Linked DNA regions of Homo sapiens: region 1 is linked to region 2. Evidence: fine-mapped expression QTL. A gene starts in region 2. The other region holds a variant in brackets. All regions are shown on one strand. Distances are from middle to middle. Region 1 has its middle 27 kb from the start of ITPRIPL2. Region 2 holds the start of ITPRIPL2 (ITPRIP like 2).

The links. PIP is the estimated chance that this variant, and not a neighbour inherited with it, causes the effect.
Region 1: its variant is fine-mapped to the expression of ITPRIPL2 in blood mononuclear cells (TOPMed, PIP 0.92).

The regions. Positions count from the first base shown.
Region 1 is chr16:19,139,462-19,142,365 of GRCh38, forward strand. No RefSeq gene overlaps it. Among named protein-coding and RNA genes, the nearest start is that of ITPRIPL2, 27 kb to the left of the region's middle. The variant G/A (reference allele first, on the strand shown) is at 1,436.
Region 2 is chr16:19,112,296-19,115,123 of GRCh38, forward strand. It overlaps ITPRIPL2 (ITPRIP like 2), which reads left to right and starts at 1,669. Exons shown (of 1, transcript NM_001034841.4): 1 at 1,669-2,828. The coding sequence starts at 2,167. RefSeq lists silencers at 1,671-1,770, 1,861-2,230.

The sequences.
Region 1 (2,904 bases), 27 kb after region 2:
GAATATAGGTGCCATGTTGTCACCCCTGTACTGAATTGATAGCTGCCTGGTTGACCGCTTTCTATGTGCCTGGCACTAGGCTGTGTGCTTTACCCTTGGAATATCAACTGTTATTATCCCACGTTACTGCTACAGGAATCGAGGTTCAGAGAGGTTAAGTAACAGCCTCCAACTCATACTTGGCAAGTACTGGAGTTGACAGGTAGGCAGGGCAGGGATTTTTGTCCTCTGAGAAAGAAAATAACTTGTCCAACTTCACACAGCTGGAAAACGCCAAAGCTGGGATTCAAACTAGAGAATTTAGAGATCTTACATGTCTTTAGTACCTACTAAATGCCAGGACACTTTGAGGAATGATGAGGAAGTGTAGGTCAAGGTTAAGAGAGTAGCTGACAGATCTGGGCTCAGTTCTGCCTCTTAATTGACCCTGGGCAATTTCTTAATGCCTCTGAACCTCAGTTTATTCACCTGCAAAATGGGTAGATTATAGCCTAACCTCAGAGGGTGTTATGGGAATTCGGTGAGTTGATGCCTGGGGAGGATTTAGCACAGAGCCTAATGAGGAGGGTGCCCATCAATGTCAGCTCCCATCAATGTCAACATCTTGCTGGTCAATATCAGCAAGAATCCTCGATGAGGCAAAAATCACCAGCTCTGTGCTTCAGGTGGAATCTATTTCTCTTTCTTCTCCTTTCTTCTTTCTTCTCCCCAGCCCTGCACTCCCCCAGCTCTCTGATCATCCTGAAGGGCTGAAGAAAACAACCAGGGAAAAGCTGGAGTTTAATAAATAAGCTCCCTTCGAAATGACCAGAGGGCCCCAGGCATGAGCTGTCTGCAGTGGTTTTCACAGCAAGCTTCACAGCAATACCTTAGGTTTTTATTTATATTACATTTCCCTGTTTACAAAGCCCTCATCTGCCTGCCAGTTACCTCCCTGAACTTCTCCTGCAGTTCTGAGAGGGGGTAGGGATTTCCATTCCCATTGAAAGGAGGCCCAGAGAGGTTAGTGACTTCCCCCAAAGTCACCCAGCAGAGCAGAACTCACATCTTCTGCCTCTAAGTTCAGAGATTTCTTCATAGCATCCTGCTGCAGGACAGCAGTTAATGAAACCGTTTCCGGAAATAATTAAGAGTTAGAGCTGGGAAAAACATATTTTGAATTGGCCAAGAGGGAATTGAAAAACTGCACATGTCAAATCTCTGTTTTTTTCTCCTGATGTGGCTTTTTGCCCCTCATCCCCTGTTCCTTTTGTCCCATGTTTCTCTGACTGCCTTCACTCTCTCACACATAAGCAAAGCAGCAGACTGGTTCATTCATTCATTCATTCATTCATTCACTGTTATGGACTGAATTACATTCCCTAAAATTTCTATGTTGATATTTTAAACCCCAATGTCTCAGAATTGTGACTGTATTTGGAGATAGAACATTTAA[G/A]AGGTAATTAATGTAAAATGAGGTCACATGGTTGGGCCCTAATCCAATATGACTGGTGTCCTCATAAGAATAGACTAGGACTCAGACAGTACAGGAGCAAGGGACGACCATGTGAGGACACAGCGGGACGGTGGCCACCTGCAAGCCCCAGAGAGAGACCTCAGGAGAAACCAAACCTGCCGACACCTTGATCTCAGACTTCCAGCCTCCAGAGCTATGAGAAATAAGTGTCTTCTGGGTAAGGCACCCAGGCTGTGATATTTACTTACGGCTGCCAGGACACTTCTTATTCCTTCGGATATACTTTTATACACATCTCACTTCCTGAAGATCTTGGCTGAACTGTCACCCAGCGAGGCTTCCCTGACACCTTCTTTAAAATTGCAATCACACTGCCCACCTTGTTTCATACTCCCAAATTTCCTCATCTGCTTCATTTTTCTCGTAGTACTGATCACTATCTGAATACCCATATATTTGCTTATATATATACATATATATACCCACACACATATATATATACACATATATATATATATATATTTTTTTTTTTTTGGAGACAGAGTTTTGCTCTGTCACCCAGGCTGGAGTGCAGTGGTGCGATCTTGGCTCACCGCAAGCTCTGCCTCCTGGGTTCAAGTGATTCTCCTGCCCCAGCATCCTGAATAGCTGGGACTACAGGCGCCTGCCACCACGCCCAGCTGATTTTTGTATTTTTTAGTAGAGACAGGGTTTTGCCAAGTTGGAGAGCCTGGTCTCAACTCCTGACCTCAGGTGATCCGCCTGCCTCAGCCTCCCAAAGTGCTGGGATTACAGGCGTGAGCCACCACACCCAGCCACTTTTTTGTGTTTTCATTTCCCCTGCCCCAACACTGGTAGATAATTATAATGAGGGCAGGGAGTGTCTGTCTGTTTTGTTCACTGTAATTAACGTACAGTGTTTGCATCTGTAGTGTCTAGAACAAGGTCTTGCTCACAGTAGGTAATTAATTAAGTGTACCTTGAATGAATGAAGTCGTGCACCCACTCATTCAAGCAACAAACAGTAATGGTGCTGTGGCTTAGTGCCAGGCACTACGCCGGGGGCTGGGATATACCTGGAGACTCATACTGGACTGGGAGATGCTAGATACCAGCGCCCACATCATACTCATGCTTGCAACTTCTGTGTCTATTCCAGGCTTGGCCTAGGGATTGCTGTAGTTTTTCCTTGGCCTAGGGACTGCTGTATTTTTTTTTTCTGACAACCCTACACACGGATTTGCTTCACTTATGCAACCTTCAGAGTAGATACCTGGAAAACATTCGCACTGATTTTTAAACAACTTTTAATTTTTTTTGAGACAGAGTCTCGCTGTGTTGCCCAGGCAGGAGTGCAGTGGCGTCGTCTTGGCTCACTGCAGCCTCCACCTCCCAGGTTCAAGCAATTCTCCTGCCTCAGCCTCCTGAGTAGCTGGGACCACAGACAT
Region 2 (2,828 bases):
GCCAGTTGGAGCTGTGTTTCTGTCACTTGCAAACCTAAGAATCTTGACTGGTAGATGATGATCTCATAGCTAATATTAGTAGATGGGATCTGAAGGCAGATCTGCTTAGCTCTCAGGGGCCCAATTTAGGATTTACTGGGAACAACCCAGAAGCCATCTTTTGAGTCCTGGTTCCCAGGTGGCAGCTGGGTTCTAACATGTTTTAATATATTCACCCTTGCTCTCTTTAAAGGTCAGTGCCAGCAAAGAAGGTGTAATGAGTGTGAATAAAGAAAGACAATTATTTAAATAGATCAGATTATTTCAGGAAGTGCTCCCTGTTATGAAACAAAACAAGCTTCCTAGGACTGAGGTTCCAATGTAGACCCAGACAAAGGACCCCCAAAATTCCCAGCAGATGAGGAAGAGACCTTCCCTGGGCCCCCTCCTGGGAGTTCCACCCCTTGGTTTCTGCCCAGCTCTACAAAGGCTGTGTAACCTTGTGGGGGAGGGGGGAAGGGGGGCAGCTGAACCTGCCTGAGCTGAACCTGTTTGTGCCCCTTTCCTCCACTGGGAAAATAATTTTATTTTAATTTCATTTCATTTTATTTATTTTATTTTTTCAGAGACAAGAGTCTTGCTCTGTCACTCAGGCTGGAGTGCAATGATGCTATCATAGCTCACTGCAGCCTCGAATTCCTGGCCTCACTCAAGCGATCTTCTCGCCGCCTCGGCTTCCCAAAGTGCTGGGATTACAGGGGTGAACCAGCATGTTCCGATGAAGTCTCAGGCCAAATGTCACCCCTGTCATCCTCTGGTTTCCACAGGGTAGCCAGCACCTTCTCACTCCCTCGGGCACTTTTGTTTATTTTAGAGCGTTTTCTTGCTGTGGAATCCTTCCCCCCACTTTTTTTTTTTTTTTTTTTTTTTTTGAGACGGAGTCTCACTCTGTCACCCAGGCTGGAGTACAGTGGCGCGATCTCGGCTCACGGCAGCCTCCGCCTCCCGGATTCAAGCGATTCTCCTGCCTGAACCTCCCGAACAGCTGGGATTACAGGCGCGTGCCACTACGCCTGGCTAATTTTTGTATTTTTAGTAGAGATGGGGGGCGGGGGGGGGGGTCTCACCATGTTGGCCAGGCTAGTCTCGAACTACTGACCTTAAATGATCCGCCCACTTCGGCCTCTCAAAGTGCTGGGATTACAGGCGTGAGACACTGCGCCCAGCCCCTTCCTTTTTTGATTCCCATTTTTACAAGGCTGTAAGCTTCACGAAGGACAGAAACCTTGTCCATCTTGTCAACTATGATTTCCCCAGCACTGTGGCTCCGACCTGGCACATGGTAGGTGCTCGGTGAATACTGGTTTGAACAGACGACTGCGGCAGACGGCAAGGGCCACTCCTGTGCCAGGGCCTGCCACGCCACCGCAGCTTGTGCGGTGGGGGTGGGGAGGACTGGACAGTCTGGCTGTGCGCCCTTTTCTCCTTTTCAACGTCCCAGTATAACTTCAAGGGAGCGCAACTCCAGAGGCTCCCTGGACGAAGCTACCGCCCCGGAATCAGGGCCTTCCCAATTCTGCCTTCGGGGAGGGAGGATGGGGGTGGGCCGCGGGAGGCCAGTTCCAAGAGCGTCCTGAAGTCCCTCCCGCCGCCCCGCGTCGCTTTAAGGCGGAGGCCCGGGAGGGGGCCGACCCGGCTCGCCAGCTCCACGCTCGGCTCCAGACTCCGGCATTTCCTCCCCGCTAGCTGGCGCGGCCTCGCCTCCCCCTCGGAAGAGGAAACTCCCGGGGTCCGAGTAACAGGGTCAGGCGCGGAGAGGAGCGGCGGGAGAGCCAGGAGGGCCGCCCAGGGTAGGAGGCGAGCCAGGCCGGGCCAGAAGCTGGCCGACGGCGGCGCGCGGGGGCGCCGGGCGGGGAGGGCCGCTGGGCCGGACTCAGCGCGCAGCCGGGGCAGGGCGCGGCCCGGGGCCCGAGAGCGCAGGGCGGGCCGCAGCTGGAAGGAACACTTGAGCTGGGAGAGGAGGCCGAGCTGGAGGGCGGCCTCCCTCGGGCCTGCGTTCGGGAAGCCGCCGCGGAGGAGGAGACGGGGACAGCGGGGCTGCCCGGGCGCTGTGCGCATGCTGGGCTTGGGTCGCCGCCGGGGCTTGCCCCCTGGGCTGCTCGGCCACCGCCGCCCCGGGCGCCCGGCATGTCGGTGCACTACACCCTCAATCTACGCGTCTTCTGGCCCCTGGTGACCGGCCTGTGCACCGCCCTGGTGTGCCTCTACCATGTCCTGCGGGGAAGCGGGGGCGCCCGGGCCGAGCCCGCCGACGGCGTGGATGGCGGCTTCCCGTTGCTTAAGGTGGCCGTCCTGCTCCTCCTCAGCTATGTCCTCCTGCGCTGTCGCCACGCTGTCCGGCAGCGCTTCCTGCCCGGGTCTCCCCGTCTGGAGGGTCACGCCGCCTTCTCCTCGAGACACTTCCGAGAGCCGGGCCTCAGCATCCTGCTGGAGAGTTACTACGAGCATGAGGTGCGCCTGTCTCCGCACGTGTTGGGCCACAGCAAGGCGCACGTGAGCCGGATCGTGGGCGAGCTGGTGCGGGCTGGCCGCGCCCGGGGGTCCCCCGGTCTCATTCCTGGGGGAGCGCTGGCCTTGGCCTTCCGCGGAGACTTCATCCAGGTGGGCAGCGCCTACGAGCAACATAAAATCCGCCGGCCCGACAGCTTCGACGTGCTGGTGCCACTGCGCCTCCCGCCGCTTGTGGCGCTGGAGCCACGGAGCCTGGGCGAGGAGCCAGCGCTGGCCCCGGCCTTCCGCGGCTGCTTCTTGTGCGCCCTCAAGGCACCACCCTCACCATCGGGGGCCTC